Linked DNA regions of Homo sapiens: region 1 is linked to region 2. The links come from fine-mapping of genetic effects on gene expression. A gene starts in region 2. The other region holds a variant in brackets. All regions are shown on one strand. Distances are from middle to middle. Region 1 has its middle 110 kb from the start of AP1S3. Region 2 holds the start of FAM124B (family with sequence similarity 124 member B).

Evidence for each region. PIP is the estimated chance that this variant, and not a neighbour inherited with it, causes the effect.
Region 1: its variant is fine-mapped to the expression of FAM124B in left ventricle (GTEx, PIP 0.96).

What each region holds. Positions count from the first base shown.
Region 1 is chr2:223,722,058-223,731,295 of GRCh38, reverse strand. No RefSeq gene overlaps it. Among named protein-coding and RNA genes, the nearest start is that of AP1S3, 110 kb to the left of the region's middle. RefSeq lists enhancers at 4,439-5,106, 4,802-6,001. The variant C/T (reference allele first, on the strand shown) is at 4,799.
Region 2 is chr2:224,398,351-224,407,588 of GRCh38, reverse strand. FAM124B (family with sequence similarity 124 member B) reads left to right here and starts at 5,482. Exons shown (of 2, transcript NM_001122779.2): 1 at 5,482-6,552. The coding sequence starts at 5,821.

The DNA of each region.
Region 1 (9,238 bases), 680 kb after region 2:
CTCCTTCTTCTTGTTTAAATGGGCCTCATTAAACAAATGAAGGCCCATTTCTTGTTTAAATGAAGCCTCATTAGAAGAGTGGAAACAGCATCTGTGACAGTAATGAGATCACCAGACAGTGAACTTCTCGTCTGAGGTCGGTACTGAAGTCAGTCCCTATTCTAAAGGGCAAAGTAGTAAAAGCAAGACTGGGCTGCCTTTGAGGAGTTTAAAGCTTTTGTCCAACTTTGGGAGAAGGCTCAAACTCATGGTGTTAAGATGTAATCTGTGCCACTCTTTTTTTTTTTTTTTCCCGAGACGGAGTTTCGCTCTTGTCGCCCAGGCGGGAGTACAATGGTGCGATCGTGGCTCACCGCAACCTCTGCCTCCCATGTTCAAGAGATTCTCCTGCCTCAGCCTCCCGAGTAGCTGGGATTACAGGCATGTGCCACCATGCTCAGCTAAGTTTTTATATTTTTAGTAGAGACAGGGTTTCTCCATGTTGGTCAGGCTAGTCTCGAACTCCTGACCTCAGGTGATCCGACCTCCTCAGCCTCCCATAGTGCTGGGATTACAGGCCTAAGCCACTGTGCCCGGCCTGTGCCATTCCTATATAAAATGCTCCTTGCCACTTAATTTTGTACTGTATTACGCCACTTGATGATTGTGTTACAATTTATCTGTCTGCACTTACTTCTACTTGTCAATCACTCCCAGCAAAAAATCACTCGAGGGCAGCTTCCTTGTCTCATGATCTTTTCTTTTTTTACTCAATGCCCCATATATAGTAGATTCTCATAAGATAGAATTATTGTTTGATTTGAACACACACACACACACATCACACAGTTACAAGTATATACTCTAAGTATTCCTCTAAGCCTTTTTCCAAAAGGACCTCAAGGTCCTTTTGGAAGACTTGTAAGATGCAGGGGTGGTGACATTTGTCATATTCACATTTACTTTGCCTTGTGCAAAAGAAAGCCAGATGTTAGAAAATGCCTGTGGATTTTCATAAACTTACTCAGATGGTGAATCCAGTTGTAGCATCTGTTCCAGATACACTACATTTACTAATAAAAACCTTGTAGCCCCTGGAATTGGATATGAAGTGATTGACCCAGCAAATGCTATTTCCTCCACACCAATTTGCAAAGACTGCCAGAAGGAGTTTGTTTTTTCCTGATAGGGCAAAGAGTATACTTTCTTAGTGTATGCACAGGGCCATGTCAGCTCTCTTACTGTCTGCCATATTGTATCTGCAGCGATTTTGATTATTTTGACATTCCAAAGAATAGCATGCTAGTCCACAGCATTGATGACATTGTGCTGACTGGATTGAGATGAACAGGGAATATCGCATACTTCAGATGCCTTAGGAAGACATATGTGAGCCAGAGGAGGGCAGAGAATTCCAATTCCTTATAACCATTACTGTATAGTTAGGATCCTGTCATAAAAACAGATATCAGTTATTTTAACAGAATTTAATATAAAGAATTGGCTAAACAGAATAAAGGATTAAAAAAAAATTTTGGTTGAGGTGGGCAGATCACCTAAGGTCAGAGGAGTTCGAGACCAGCCTGGCCAACATGGTGAAACCCTGTCTCTACTAAAAATACAAAAATTAGCCGGGTGTGGTGGTGGGCGCCTGTAATCCCAGCTACTGGGGAGGCTGAGGCAGGAGAATTGCTTGAACCCAGGAGGCGGAGGTTGCAGTGAGCCAAGATCATGCCACTGCGCTCAAGCCTGAGCTGGAGACGTTGTCTCAAAAAGAAAAAAAAAATTTTTTTTGCAAAAATGAGGTCTTGCTATGTTGACCAGGCTGGTCTTGAACTCCTAGCCTCAAGCAATCCTCTCATCTCACCTCTCAAATTGCTGGAACTACAGGAATGAGCCACCATGCCTGGCCCAGGATAGAGAACTTAAATAGCTAAAAGGGAATCCTGATGTATCACAGAGGCATTGACAGCATAAAGCAGTTGTCACTTTTAGGACACAAAGGCAAGATGTTGGGATTATTGGAAACTAGAAACTTGGAGCAGGAACCTTCCAGGGGTGGCCTCGGCCTCTGAGGAGTTTCAGGACTAAGACGAGGGCCCTAAAGAATTGCCATTCAGACCTCTGAGAAGAGAAGAAGGAGAGAAAGCACAGTGGGAAGTACGTTGGACAGATGGTGGGGCCAGAAAATGAAAGTTCATTCAAGGCGGTAGGAAGATCAGCTTATACACACTATGTTGCAAAGTTTAGTTGACTTGATTTATTTCAGGAATGGGATAAGGAAGTAAATACACAAGAGGAAAAGACATTCAAGAAAATTGAAGATATATTTCATGCAGATAACTCTCACTTTTCTTATTTTACTTTAAAACCACTGTTGACAGAGATGAAAAACCTACCGAAAACAAACAGCTAGTCCATGGAAATATGTTTGCTGGTTCCTGGAGTTGAGAGGCAGCAACACTTGGGCCCAAGATAACAGCGGGAAGTGCAGAGAAACTTCTGAGCCAGACTGAACTTAGTTCAAATCTTAGCTTTATCACAAGCTGTGATATTACTCAAGTTATTTAACTTCTCTGTACCTCAGTTTTTGTAATTGGGATTATTATTACTACCATCACAAGTTGAGTTCCACAGAACTAAAATCGAAGTGCCAGCATGCCTCCAACACTTACCCCATGCTTCATCTGGGGATTTACTGCACCCAAATTATAATCCCCTGTATTATAATAACCAAGAACAATCTGTCTATTTCTGATCCACAATAATTATTTATAACACCGCCTTTTTTCCCCCAGTAGATGCCTGGAGTTTGAATCTGTTTAGCATGAACTCCTAGAAATCCCTCACTTTCTTGGTGTACACCCGAATTTGGGAGACTCCGGGTTGAATATCAGAAAGACTTAAAAGGCTATCAGACAAACGCTTGATTGAAATTTTCCCCAGGATTAAAACAGGCAGAGTCTCAGTATGAGTGATAATAATAACAGTACAGGGATGTCCCCTTAAAGACAATGGGGAAAGACAAGGAGATTTGAAATAGATGAAAATGTGGAACTCAGAAGATGTAGGTTCATATAAACTTTTTTTTTTTTTTTGAGATGAAGTCTCGCTCTGTCACCCAGCCTAGAGTGCAGTGGCACAATCTTGGCTCACTGCAACCTCCGCCTCCCAGGTTCAAGGAATTCTCCTGCCTCAGCCTCCCGAGTAGCTGGGACTACAGGCGCCTGCCACCACGCCCGGCTAATTTTTTATTTGTAGTAGAGACGGGGTTTCACCATCTTGGCCAGGCTGGTCTCGAACTCCTGACCTTGTGATCCACCCACCTCGGCCTCCCAAAGTGCTGGGATTACAGGCGTGAGCCACCGTGCCCGGCCGGTTCATATAAACTTTAGAAAGGGAGTCAGAGAATAAGAATTTATCAGCTTACTCTAAGCATTTCCCAAAGGACTGGGATTCCAATTCCAAGTGAGCAAAGATTTATCCTTCTAGAGAAGGAAAGGGCCATTCATTTGCTTTCCATAGCTTATTGGAAAATATCTCTGTGTAACTCGTATCCAGCAGTCATCAGGCATCTTCTCATTCTAATTTGCTTTCCTTAGCCGACTTGCATGCTAGAAGGAAGTGCCCTCTGCTGGTGTAAGAGTTCATAGGCCAAGTCCTTCTCGCATTCTAATTTGGTACCTTATAATTGGTTTCCTGTTACTGAACAGTCCTGTGTGAGTTTGGGTGATAATATTACACTGAGGCCTGAATTGGGGCAGGACCAGCATCAAACTAATTAGGGCCAGCATTCCACATCAATAGCATATATGTGGCTATGTTTGGGGGTTCCAAAAGTCCTTGTAATCTCAAATTATCTTTGCTGCTCATCTGCTATAACGTCTGAAATGCTACCATTAAATTTATCCCATTAGACTATAGTTCCAAGAATTACCAAAATGTAAGTTCATTTCAACCTAATAAACTCTTACTGGGTAAACCTTTAGTTTAGGGCATTGCGATGGGTACTCGGAGTTAAAAACCAAAAGCAAAAATTAAGATGGTGATTAAGTAAGTTTATCTATCACCCTCAACAGCTGCAAAACAAATTGTACGATGCAATGAAAAGTTAATATATCCAAAAATGCCCAAAAGAGGGATAAGGACTCTTATGCAATAAAAATTCAAAGAACTGAGTGATTAGTAGGTGCTGGAGTAGCCAGACATATGACTTGCATCAGGACTTCAGAGGTAAATAGCCCATTTGTGGTGGTCGTAAACAATTTAGGTTTCGCTGGTGAATTAGCTATCCAGGCTCCTTGAAAAGAGAAAGATTTAGAATGAATTCGATGACACTGCTCAGGGGCTTACTAAATTAGAGAATAGCTTACATGGGAGACCCCAGGACAAATACCTGGGGGCTGAATTGTGTGACAACCAAAAAGTTTCCAAGGACAAATTTGAAATTTGACTATTTGCACAGGGATGTCAGAGCTTTGTTGGATGATGGTACCCCGTGGGTGCCCTGACATACCTGAAGCTCTGTTTGAATAACGAACACAGTGAACAGTGAAATGGCCCTTTGCATAATCTGGGAAAGTCCTTGGAAATCCTGATGTGAAAGGCAGACTGGAAAAGGTCATTGTTGAGATTTTCCCTCCCCTCCCCTCCCCTCCCCTCCCCTCCCCTCCCCCCTCCCTCTCTCTCCCTCTCTCTCTTTCTCTCTCTCTCCCTTCCTTTCTCTTTCTCTCTTTCTTTCTTTCCTTTTCTGAGGCACAGTGTCACTATGTTGCCCAAGCCAGTCTCAAACTCCTGGGCTCAAATAATTCTCCCGCCT[C/T]GGCCTCCCAAAGTGCTGGGACTGCAGGCATGAGCCACCACGCTCAGCCACTGTTGAGATGTTGTAAGCAAATTGTTATGGAATGCAACCCCAAATTCATATATTGAAACCCTAACCTCCACTGTGATGGTAGTTGGAGGTGGGACCGCTGGCGGGTAGTGAGTTGATCATGAGGATGGAGCCCCCAGGATGGGATTAGTGTTTTTTATAAAAAGAGATTAGTGTGCTCTCCTTCCTCCCAACCCCTTCTCTGTCAAGTGAGGATACAACAAAAAGATAGCCACTTGCCAACCAGAAAGAGGGCTTTCACCAGACACGAAATCTGTCAGCAACTTGATCTCAGACTTGCCAGGCTGCAGAATGATGAGAAATAAATGTTTGTTGTTGAAGCCACCCAGTCTATGGTATTCATTATAGCAGCTCAAACAGACTAAGATGCAAATCAATATAAAACACTCTGTGAAAAAAAAGAAATGCTTTCAATATTTTCCAGTGAAAAAGAACTCATAATAAGGATTTGACATTGTTTGACAGGAAGGAAGGCTTCTGTTTCTAGTTTTTTAGTTAACTTGACAGTGAAGTTCAAGTTTGACAGTTTAAACTTTCTTTGGTTTGAAATCATCATTGCCAGGTGGGGGAAGAGGAAGCAGGACCCACACAGGACTCAGGAGGGCATTTAGGTCATTCTACCCAGGCCATTGCCATTCTCTTCCTACTCCTCTGAAAGAAAGGGAGGCTTTGACGTCAGGCGTGGGTGAGTCATCTTTCCTCCCAGGGCCTCCGGCTGGAATTTGCAGGCTGTCTTTGCAGCAGCTATTCTGTTAGTCATTCACAAAAAAGCATCCTGGAAAAGCTGAAGGGAAATGCTTGGATGGACAAGTGATTAAATTTCTATTTTCATGGCAGAGAACCTGCTGGCTTGCTCACAAAAGCAGCTGCATCCAGTACCAGGCACCCCAAGGGCACCCGGTAAATACTTGTGGATTCATTGACGAAAAGATCTGCTGGGTTCTCTTAAATCTTGGTGTTGAAACTGAATTTTCAGATACGATTATGTGACTGGTAGATAAGGTTTTGTGCCTATTTACTTCTCCATGCTCAAATGTCAAATCAAATTTATTGGGTTTACATAAAGAGGTTAGTAACATTGCTGGCCCTACTATCATGAACATTGTGAAAGGAAAATGAATAAGGCCCTTTCTGAAGCTTTATCTGCAGGGGTACATGTGTGGGATTCAATGGAAGGAAAGTTGAACTGTGAGCTAAGAATGATTGTCTCTTTTGCTCCAGGAAGCCCTCAGCAATCATTTGATCTTTTTTGAGAATCTGTTAGGGAAAAGAATAAAAATATCTCCTTACCTGCCAGAAATGCAGGGAAACAAGAATGAAGCAAAAGGAAGAGTATGAGTCCTACATCCTTCCAGCCTGAGACAGGATGTATCCTTATTGCTTTGCCTGCAGTGAACTGACAGGGAATCTGAGATGCACAGAGGCATGGTGAATTAGCCAGAGAAGTCTAGCAACTGCAGCCTGAGCCCTCTTCCCTTTTCCGTCTCTTAGGCGATCTCCACAGCTTTATACACGATCTACGTCCATGACTCTTAATTAGATTTCTATCTCTAGTCCTTCTCCTTCTTCACATATATAACTTTGTGCTTTACACTTTTATGTGAAGTTCTGGTAGGTATTTCAAACTTCACATTCGAACTCAAACTCATGACTTTCACCTCAAGCATGCTCCTCCCTTGTCTCCCTTAGGAGGGACTACCGTTTACAGTTATCTAAGCCAAAAAGTCTAGGCGTCATCCTTGAATCCTCTGTTCTTTTCATCCCCCATGAGATACAATTTGGTATTAAGACAAATTCTTTCTCTGTTTCTTTCTCTCTATTTCCACTGTGAATACCCTAGAATAAACCATGCTCCTTTCTCACTGGGTGGACAGCAGTCACTCTAGTCTCTCTTATTTTACTCTTGACTTCTATTGATATAGGAGTTAAGAAGAAATTACTTAGGCAGATAGTGAGGGTACTGGAGTCCTCGATAAGATTTTCCTTTTTAATGAAAAGCAGCCCCAAATCATTTTCTAACAAACAACAGCTTGTAAAATCAAGCTGCAGACATAGACAAGCAAGCTGGAAGATTGCAGGGATGAATCCCAGTAGAAAAGCACTATCTGGGACTAGGCATGTTCAAAATGGCAGCTTCATCTTCCCTTCCCTTTGCCAGCCACGTGTACAGTAAGGAGCAGACAAGATGGCACCAGCCAAGTTGAAAGCCCATTTGCATAATAAGATAGGCAGGATGGGGGTGGTGACCAGCCTTCTCCGCATGCCATGTAAACATCACACCTGATCGAACCAATCTGTGAGCCCTATGTAAATCAGACACTGCCTTCTCAAGCCTGCCTATAAAATCCAGTGAACTCTGCTGCCGACCAGTCTTTTCTCTCCGCAGCACTTCTCTCTCACTGGAGAGAGAACTGTTCTCCTTTCTCTTTCTTCTGCCTATTAAGCCTCTGCTCCTAAACTCCTCATGTGTGTCTGTGTCCTAAATTTTCCTGGCATGGCAGGACAAACCCCGGGTATTTACCACAGACAACAAAACCGCTTCACTATGATGTATGCATGCTGCAAAGGAAGGTTCGTATAAAATTCTTCTTAAAAAATTATTCAGGCAGCCGGGCGCGGTGGCTCACGCCTGTAATCCCAGCACTTTGGGAGGCCGAGGCGGGCGGATCACGAGGTCAGGAGATCCAGACCATCCTGGCTAACATGGTGAAACCCCGTCTCTACTAAAAATACAAAAAAATTAGCCGGGCGTGGTGGTGGGCGCCTGTAGTCCCAGCAAGCTACTCGGGAGGGTGAGGCAGGAGAATGGCGGGAACCCGGGAGGCGTAGCTTGCAGTGAGCCGAGATGGCGCCACTGCACTCCAGGCTGGGTGACAGAGCGAGACTCCATCTAAAAAAAAAAAAAAAAAAATTATTCAGGCAATTTATTAAATATTACCTATAAAATATTATGTATCTGTATTTTACATAAGAAAACAATGATTTATTGGTCTTCATAACAACTGGTCCATGCAACAATACTAAGTAGTCAACACTAAGCTCAACTCTATTTTCAGACCAACGATGCAACTTTAGATTAGAGGACATGTGGGATCTTGCATCCTAATTCCTAAATTTACAGTCAAAATGTTTTCAGAGATAAGTATTATGAAATCCATGAGAAGCTAAAATAATTTATTTATTTATTTATTTACTTTGAGATGGAGTCTTGCTCTTGTCACCCAGGCTGGCATGCAATGGCGTGATCTCAGCTCACTGCAACCTCCGCCTCCAGGGTTAAGCAATTCTCCTGCCTCAGCCTCCAAGTAGCTGTGATTAAGGCGTGTGCCACCACACTGAGCTAATTTTTGTATTTTTAGTAAAGCCGAGGTTTCACCATGTTGACCAGGCTGGTCTCAAACTCCTGACCTCAGGTAATCCACCCACCTCGGCCTCGCAAAGTGTTGGGATTACAGGCGTGAGCCACCGCACCTAGCTCTACCTCTTCTGAAGTTGTTTCTTTTCTGTCTCTTAGATCTCAGCCCTAAGGTCCCTTCCCTGAGAAGGCATTTCTGGGTACCCTTTCTAAAGCAGCGGTCTCTGTGGCTCCCTCAGTCCTTGTGCATCATATCATTGTTTAATTCGTTTGTAAAATTAACCACATACTGAAACTATCCATCTTATTTATTTACTTGTTTATTATATCTCCACTATCTCTTGCTTCTTTCCAAGTAAGTTGTGACCTCCATGTGAATGAGGGCTTTGTCCTTCTTAAAAGAGGCAATTATGGAGCAGTGATTAAGCTCTCACACTCTGGAAGCAGATTTCTTGGATTCATAGCCCAATTTTGCCACTTGCTAGGTATTTGACCTAAAATAATTGTTTGACCTCTCTGTTCCTCTCTCTTCTCATTAGTAAAATGACAGCAGTAAAAAGACCTGCCTCATGAAATTGTTGTAAAAAGCTCACTCCCTGCAAGTTATCCCTGGCGCAAGGCACATACTCAGCAAATGTTGGCTGCCACTGTTGATGACTGTACAGTACCTGCTTAACACGTATTAATAGCGTGAACAGGCCGGGCGTGGTGGCTTATGCCTGTAATCCCAGCACTTCGGGAGGCTGAGGTGGGTGGATCAACTGATGTTAGGATTTCGAGCCCAGCTTGGCCAACGTGGTGAAACCCTGTCTCTACTAAAAATGCAAAAATTAGCTGGGCGGGGTGGCGGGTGCCTGTAATCCCAGCTACTCGGGAGGCTGAGGCGGGAGAATCGCTTGAACCCGGGAGGTGGAGGTTGCAGTGAGCCGAGGTTGCACCATTGCACTCCAGCCTGGGTGACAGAGCGAGACTCTGTCTCAAAAAATAAAAATAAATAAATAAATAAATAGAGTGAA
Region 2 (9,238 bases):
AACAAAGTCACAGCAGAAGACCACAACAAAGAGTGAGGAGGAAACATGCCTTCTTTGTGTGCACCTGTGAAAACACAGGGTATCAGCTCACAGGCTGAGACTGGGCTGCATTGTCCTGGAAAAGGGGGAAACAGATGGCAATTTAAGAGGAACCTGATAGCATTGTTTGGGGCTGGGCAGGAGGCGTCCTCTGGGAAACTAGGAGAGAAGCTTTCAGCTAAGAGCCACAGCAGCATGAAAAAGGCGCTTACTGTGGCCACTTCCTCCTTTCCCACCTCTGCCCTAGAAGGAGCCCTTGGGAATGCACAGCCCTCCATTGTTTGTCTGGTGCTGTTTCTGCCAAAACTCCCAGGAGAAGCCCGGAGCCCTGACCCAAGGGCCTTTGGGTGTGTGTGTGTGTGTGTGTGTGTGTGTGTGTGTGTGTGTGTGTTGGGAGAAGGGCGGAGCACAAGGATGGCACTGGCTTAGGAGTGTCCATCATAGGGAAGCACACATTAACCAGAAGTGATATGATTTAGCCATGTCCCCACCCAAATCTCATCTTGAATTGTAACTCCTGTAGTCCCCTCGTGTCATGGAAGACACCCAGTGGGAGGTAATTGAATCACAGGGGTGGGTTTTTCCCATGCTGTTCTCTTGATAGTGAATAAGTCTCACGAGATCTGATGGTTTCATAAAGGGCAGTTCCCCTGCACACGCTTTATTGCCTGCCACCATGTAAGACATGCCTTTGCTCCTCCTTTGCCTTCTGCCATGATTGTGAGGCCTCCCCAGCCATGTGGAACTGGGAGTCAATTAAACCTCTTTGTCTTTATAAATTACCTGTCTTAGGTATGTCTTCGTAGCAGTATAAAAATGTACACTAATACAAGAGGCATCTAGAGCATGGGACAGGAATAATGTTAGGGCTCTGAGAATAATCCCTACTCCTTGGATCTTGGTTTTCCTTTTTATGTGTCCTGAGCCTAAATGACTCTTACCTGAATAGCTACATGGTATTGTCCCCTTAGGAGTGGTGAGGGAGCATGGTTTAAAACCCAGAAATCCAGGCTCTGCCAATAACCAATTGTGTGGTGTTGGGAAAGTATCTCAGCCTCCCTGGGATTCTGATCCCTTAAGAGATGCCAAGATTCCTTCATTCATGACAGATCCATTTAGTCCTGTGCTGTAGGTTCAGGGTTAGAGGCTTCAGTCAGGAGTTAAAAAAATAAGCACCATGTGGTCCCTTCTCCACACCTTTTCTCCAAGTAGTGCCCCAGGTTCTAGAATGCCTCGCCCCTGGTTAGCAAGTGAGTATCACACAAAGAACCAGAGTTAAGGTTGTTTGGGAACGAGGAAAACAGAGGCTTGAATGGCTCTGAGGTTCGCTTGGTGACAGCTGCTTCTTTGAGTTTGCCTAATTGAGAAGGGGAAATGAGTCACAAATGTTAGCCTGAAACACTAAATGATGCTGTCTGCCCAGCCAAAGCCATGTTCTGAAGTCCTCATAACACACTCCACTCTCCATTTTGCCCTGGGTGCCACTTAAACATTGCTTGTCTCTTAAACTGGGTACTCCTGGAATCCTATCCTCTTCCTTCTTCTGTCCTTGTTGTGTCTTCTCTTTCTGGGTAGTCACATCCTTTCCCATGGCTGCCTGAAGACCAGCAGTTCCCCAATTCCTATTCTCTGGTTTACTGTTCCCTTCAAAGCTGTAGTGAACAGGCCACTGGACATCTCAACTCTGGCCATCCCACGGGCATCCATGCACAACACAACCACCCTGCCCTCCTCATCCTCACTCCTAACTGCCCTCCTTTCCAGTATTCCTTATCTGGTGACTGACAGCTTCACCCAAACATCTGCAAGTACCACCCTGGAATGCCTCCTGGACTAGCCACCACGGTTTTCTGCCTGCATCCAACCAGCCAACAAACCTGTCCTTTGACTGCATATCTTGCTGTGTCCGTGGCTTCCTCAAAGCATCACTTCCCTTTTCATACTGACTTTTAGGTGGTTCTGGTCAGATTCAAATAAAGTGTTCTGCAAGGCCCTTCCTGATCAGGCCCCTGGCTTCCTTCCACCCTCCTCTTCATTGAACCTCCACTCCAGCCACCTTGAACTGCTTGCAGTTGCACCAGTGTGTGACAGTCCTGGCCCCCTCGTCTAACTCAGTGTCTCCCCATGGGGTCTCCATACATCCTGCAGCACCCTTTATCATGGCACTGACTGCATCATTTAGGGTGCCCCTCCAAAGTGGGGGATGGTGACGATTCTATCTTCTGCTCCTGGTGCAACGCCTGGCTCTTGACATGTGAGATAAACATATTTTATAAATTAAAGATGGAAAGGAACTTTTTCTCAGAGTTTTCCTGGGTTGGGGGTGGGTGGGAATCTCGAGGTTATAATGCATCCCATTGTATTTTGTAGAAAGGACAAATCCCCGAGGATTTTCATGGGTTCCAATGGAGCCTCGGATTTTCTAGGTTTGCTTGAGCGACTCATCACCAGCCTCTCCATTTGCTGTGAGGAGTGGACCAACCATCTGCCATCCAGGAGCTGATGACTGCAGAAACCTGGGCATCATTGCCTGCCAAGTTTAAGAAAAATAAGATAGAGAATTGGAGTGACAGCTGTCCGGGTGCTGAGAGTCAAAGCTGATGATTTCCCTTAGTATTTTTGTCTGTGCCTTCAACAGAAGCACCATGCTAAAACACTGTTGTGCTGCACAGCTGAGAATCTGGCATTTGTTGTGGGTGGAAGGCAGTGACCAAAGGTGGAGGCAGTTTGGGGAAGGTCAGTCAGTATTTCACGTTGTTCCTGGGGAAATAATCACAGAGACAGCCAGTCAGAAATGAGGCTGGTCCCCCTCTTCCCTGGCCTCCTGCCCCTTGGATTTGTTGGCACTTTGGCTGCCAACAGATTAATGAAATCTTTTCAATCCTGAAAGAAATGACAACCTCATCAGGAAAAAAGTGTATTTTCAGCATTAGATGGAAGATAATATCAAGAAACAAAATCTTTTCCTATGTAAGAGCTTTAATACTTACCTTGTGCAAAATGTTGTGAGTTAATATCGTGGTTTCAGGGGAACAATTTTTCTCCTCAAATCTTTAGAGTTATTTCCAGAATTTCAAAGCCTATTTCAAAAACTATAGTTTTGTCTAAAGTACAATCAGCTCTGTGAATGGAAGGGTTGCGGAAGGGAGAGTGTTCACACTGAGAGATGAGATAGTTATCTGCTTCCAATGCCAATGCATAACATGAATGCTGTCGAGTTTTTTTTAAAAAAGCTTGAGATTTGTAATGCCAAAAAAAAAAACCTCTAATGATTTTTTTAAAAGTTGAAACAAGATGAATTTAATTACTGAGCTGCTCACAATAACTAGGAAACAATTCCTCTGTTATAAATTGTATTTATGTATTTTTCCCATGCAAAAAGTACAGGAATTATGAAACACAAATGATTAGAATTGTACGTTAGATTTACATAGTGAATCTGAATAGAAATAACTCCTTTTCTTGGATAATAATATTTTACTTTAAATTAGGTTGTTATACTATTAAAGGAATCCAGATATATAAAGTTGTTATATTTTTCATCACAAAAGTATTTTTTAATGTAAAAAATTGTCACACTGTGTTTCATTATAAGGATTCATAAATTTGCCTCTTTTATTTTAATTTTTTACAGCTCTTTTTGAAGTACATTTTTTTTCTTTGAGACAGGGTCTTGCTCTGTTGTCCAGGCTGGAGTGCAGTGGCATGAATTTAGGTCAGCACAGCCTGGAACTCCTGGGCTCAAGCGATTGTCCTGCTTTGGCCTCCCAAAGTGTTGAAATTACAGTTGTGAGCCACTTCGCCTGGTCCAATTGCCTCTTTTAAAAAGAATTGTGTTTAGAAAAAGTGCTTGTTCATACCTGTTGAGGAGCACAGCTATCAGGAGAGCAAATGATTTTTTAAAAATATTTATTTATTTATTTATTTTTATTATTTTTTATTTTCTGAGACGGAGTCTTGCTCTATCACCCAGGCTGGAGTGCAGTAGTGCGATCTGCAACCTCCACTTGCTGGATTCAAGTGATTCTTGTGCCTCAGCCTCCTGAGTAGCTGGGATTACAGGCATGCTCCACTTTGCCCGGCTAATTTTTGTGTTTTTAGTACAGACGGGGTTTTGCCATGTTGCCTAGGCTGGTCTCGAACTCCTGACCTCAGGTGATCCACCCGCCTCGGCCTCCCAAAGTACTAGGATCAAGGCGTGACGACTATGCGTGGCCACAAATAATTTTTAAATCAATATTTAGAACACATTTAGGGTGAGTGTTTAGAGCTTGACAACTTTCTCATTGAAGATTATTCCGTTTAAGATTCAACAGCTCAAGAGTCTGCAAATCTAGATCCTTAACCAGAACTTGCTTTTATATCTTTTCCTTACAAGAAGAATACCCAGGCTGGGACTTCAAGGCCCCAGAGAGGCAGTGCAGCAAGTTCCTGGGTTCAAATCATCCTTCAGCTACTTCTTAGCTGTGAGACCTTGGGCAAGTTACCTAGCCTTTCTATGCCCCAGTTTCTTCATCTGTAATTTGGGGCTAGTAATCTCTTCTTCATAGGTTTGTTGCAAGATTAAATTAATTTACATTAAGGGCCAGGTGTGGTGACTCATGCCTGTAATCCCAGCACTTTGGGAGGCCAATGCGGGCAGATCACCTGAGGTCAGGAGTTCGAGACCAGTCTGGCCAACATGGCAAAACCCAGTCTCTACTAAAAATACAAAAAAATTAGCTGGGCGTGTTGGCGCACTTATAATCCCAGGTACTGGGGAGGCTGAGGCAGGGGAATCTCTTGAACCTGGGAGGTGGAAGTTGCAGTGAGCCAAGATCACGCCACTGCACTCCAGCCTGGGCGACAGAGCAAGACTCCATCTCCAAAACAAAACAAAACTAATTACTTTAAGAATTAGAACAGTTTATGACTGGTACATAGTAGATCCTCATTAGACACTAAAAATTATAATTACAATTGTTAATTATAATTATTTATTATTATAATTATATGAGCAATTATAGGAAAGCTCTCACTCTTTCTAAAGAATTTGCGTGAATAAAGGAAGACTAATTTTCTCAATGTCTTTTTAGTACACTCAGAATTTTCGGTACAGCAAATAATTTTCAGTGAAGTCAAAATTATTTAGATAAAGTCTTCTCTTCGTGCCCTAGCAGAAAATGTTCAGAAACAAAATGAAATAAAGAGACAAAGGAAAAAAAAAACTGGCAAAGGGTCAGGTTTTGAGAATTGTTTTCAAGAAGTCATTGTATTCAGATTGGTGGAGCAGGCTACTGTAAACCGTAAGTAGGAAATGAGAACCCGTTGTAAGTTGATAAAATGGATGTCTTTTCAACTAAACAGATTGCTATCAGCCTAACAGAGCCAACTCATGTTCCTTTTCGGCCGGTCATTTCCTGTACTAAGTGTCTATAAGAGCCGCCCATTTGGGTGTTTCTCAGGATTATAGGTTTTTAGGTCACGCAGAAACCCTGGGGAACGCCTGAAAAGGCTAAACACAAGCAGTTACATTATGCACAAGCTGGATGACGTGACCCCGCTGCTGCTGTGTGGAGAGGGAGGCTGCTGAACCCGAGCTGGTGTGAGCTTCTCTTGCCGTAAGTCCACGGGTGGCCAGGAGCACGTGTTAGTCTGGTTAAGAGCTCTGCTCAGAAGTAGCCGCTGCAGCTGAAGGTTTTCAGGCGGGCTGAAGGCTGGGCCGCTTCTTCATTCATTTCAGAAACTTGAACAGTGGGCCTTCTACACACGCTGTCTTTGTCAGCCTCAGGCAGTTCCTCCATGGATGAGACACAGGGGCCTCTGGCCATGACTGTCCATCTTCTTGCCAACTCTGGGCACGGCTCCCTTCTGCAGAGGACTCTGGACCAGCTCCTGGATTGCATTTGCCCAGAGGTCCGGCTCTTTCAGGTGTCTGAACGGGCCAGTCCTGTGAAATACTGTGAAAAGTCCCATTCCAAGCGGTCCCGGTTTCCAGGGATGTCCGTGTTGCTCTTCCTGCACGAAAGCCCGGGAGAGGATAGGCTATTTCGCGTCCTGGACTCTCTCCAGCATTCGCCATGGCAGTGCTACCCCACCCAGGACACTCGGGGAAGGCTGTGTCCCTACTTTTTTGCCAATCAGGAGTTCTACAGCCTGGACAGTCAGCTGCCCATCTGGGGGGTGAGGCAGGTGCACTGTGGCTCCGAGATCCTGAGGGTGACGCTGTACTGCAGTTTTGATAACTATGAAGACGCCATCAGACTCTACGAGATGATCCTGCAGAGAGAAGCGACCTTGCAAAAGAGCAATTTTTGTTTCTTCGTGCTCTATGCCTCCAAGAGCTTTGCTCTGCAGCTCTCCCTGAAGCAGCTGCCCCCGGGAATGTCAGTGGACCCCAAAGAGTCTTCGGTGCTGCAGTTTAAGGTTCAAGAGATCGGCCAGTTAGTGCCTCTGCTACCCAATCCATGCATGCCTATCAGCAGCACCAGGTGGCAGACTCAGGACTACGATGGCAACAAGATTCTGCTTCAGGTATTTCTGTTTTGTCTCAGATCTTGTAGAGGCTCATGGAGCTGTGTAATTTTACATCGGAATGGGCCTAAGCTAGTGGTTCTCAGACTTGGTTGCATATTAGCGTCCCTTAGGGTCTTTCATAAATTCCCACCCCAGGGCAGTTTGATCCGAATCTCTGGGAACATCCAGGCCTAGGTAACTTTTTTACAGCTTCTTGGATGACTGTAATCTGTAACAGGGTTGAGAATCACTGATCTCATAAAATCTCATCTGACAGATAAGAAAGTTCAGATTCCATGAATTTGCAGCTGACACAAGTACTTTATAGTAGAATCAGACAGGATTCTACTATAAAGATCAGAATCCTATTAAAGAATCGGCCTCCTTTCTCAGGCTTGCCGTTTAAATGCCCATCAACTATACCCCTATCCTTTGTTTACTCTTTGGGCTCAGGAATGTCACAAGCTCTTCTAATCTGACTTAAGGAAGTTGAAGTCATACTTATGTTTAGATATGGTTTTTTTAATTTTTAATTTTTTTATTTTTTAGAGATGGGAGTCTTCCTCTGTTGCCCAGACTCGAGTGCGGTGGTGCCATCATAGCTCCCTGAGGTCTTCACCTTCTGGGTTCAAGTGATCCTCCTGCCTTAGCCTCCTGATTAGCTGGGACTACAGGCACGTGCCGCCATGTCTGGCTATTTTATTTTATTTCTAGAGACGGGGTCTCACTATGTTGGCCGAGCTTGTTTAGGGATGTTAAGTTTGCAGTACTATTGACTTAATTTTTATTCTTTATTATTATACTTTAAGTTCTGGGGTACATGTGCACAAAGTGCAGGTTTGTTACACAGGTATACATGTGCCATATTGGTTTGTTGCACCCATCAACTCGTATTGACTTAATTTTTAAGCATCTTGCATCACTGTCAAATTTTACCACATACCAAGTTAGATAGAATGCTTTCTTAAAAAAACTTGAAATTAAAGCCTTCCTTTGTAACCATCCTCGAAAACCTAACATAGCATGTGTGTATTTAGTCATGATAGCTGCCGTGCATTGCCTTTCCATGGTATGTGAGCCTGGGCACTTAGTAGCTGTATGACTGTGGGCCTCAGTTTCTTCATTAGCACAATAAAGGCACCCGAGAATTAGCATCTTCCTCTCTCATACTTACTTACAGGAAATGACCTGACACTTATAAAGTACATAATTAAGATAGTGCCAAGAACTCAATTTTAGCTATTATTGTTCATATTATGCCCTATACTAAGGATTCTCTTAAATTGATAATTTTATTTAATACTTATAACAACCTATGAAGTTACTATTTTTCCCATTTTGGAGATAAGAAAACTGAGCTTTCCAGGGGGTCAGTTATTTGCCCAAGATAGGAAGTATCTATCTACCCTCAAAGTTCATGTGGTCAGCCGCTGCAGTCCAGTGTATGTGTGTAAATGTGCAAGCAGGGGGATGAATGTCATGTTCACAGCAAAATATCCTGTGGCTTCTGTCCTTAAGAAATGGTCAGAAGCTCCTTAAGGCCTATTGAATAAAGTAATAAGAGACTACAAGATGAGATGTCTTTCCATTTGGTTAATTTTGTTGTCATCACTTTGACTTGTTAATAAAACATGAATCATATTCCATATTAAATGATTTCTAAATTATTCACCTTCTTGCTCACATAAGGTAGACAGGCACTGTTTCTGTTAGTTGCCTATTATAAAACCCCATAATTTCCAAGGCATCTAAAATTTCTTTCAGTTTTAGCGACTCTCTAGTACTTAAAATCAACCTCATGGTCAAACAAAAATGTAATGTGTGTGTGCAGCAAGGGACATGATTTTAATCATTCCTGTCTTTAAGGCTGACTGACATTTTTGCTATGGAACCACAGTTTAAACAACTTAGTTACTTTGGAAAGTTGAGTCACATTTGGGGAGTGTAGAAGAGTTTTTTGGATAAAGAGAAACTCCATGAATTGTATGAAAAGAGCCCTCTTCCTCTCTGGATTGTCCCAGGAGCCTGGCCACTTCTCAGGTGTGAATGGGGCATCAGCCCCTCACTCTTTTGTTTTTGAGACAGAGTCTCTCTCTGTTGCTCAGGCTGGAGTGCAATGGTGTGATCTCAGCTCACTGCAACCTCTGCCTCCCGGGTTCAAGCAATTCTTGTGCCTCAGCTTTCCCAAGTGGCTGAGACTACAGGTGCCTGCCAACATGCCCAGCTAATTTTTGTATTTTTAGTGGAGATGGGGTTTCACTATGTTGCCCAGGCTGGTCTCAAACATCTGGCCTCAAGTGACCACCTGCCTCAGCCTCCCAAAGTGCTGGGATTATAGGCATGAGCTACCACGCCCAGCTGCCTCTCACTCTTGATAGCCCCCTTGGACATCACCTTTGTCCTGACCTCCAAACCTCAGAGACTTCTGCTTCCTCACTCCAAAACACGCTTTGATCTCCTCTTGTTAAGTCAATGAGTCTAAGCTTTTGCAAACAGAGTGAGAGATCGCCTTCTGGAAAATTCTGCTTCTGGTGTCATATAATAAAAGTGCCTGAGGAAAGTGTGTAAAGGCTCAGCCATAATCCAAAGACAACACATTGTAGCTCCTAGATAGCTTTTGATTCTTTGAATGGAGTGAATTTTTCAGGATAGAAAATTCTTGGGCGTGGTGGCTCAGGCCTGTAATACTAGCACTTTGGGAGGC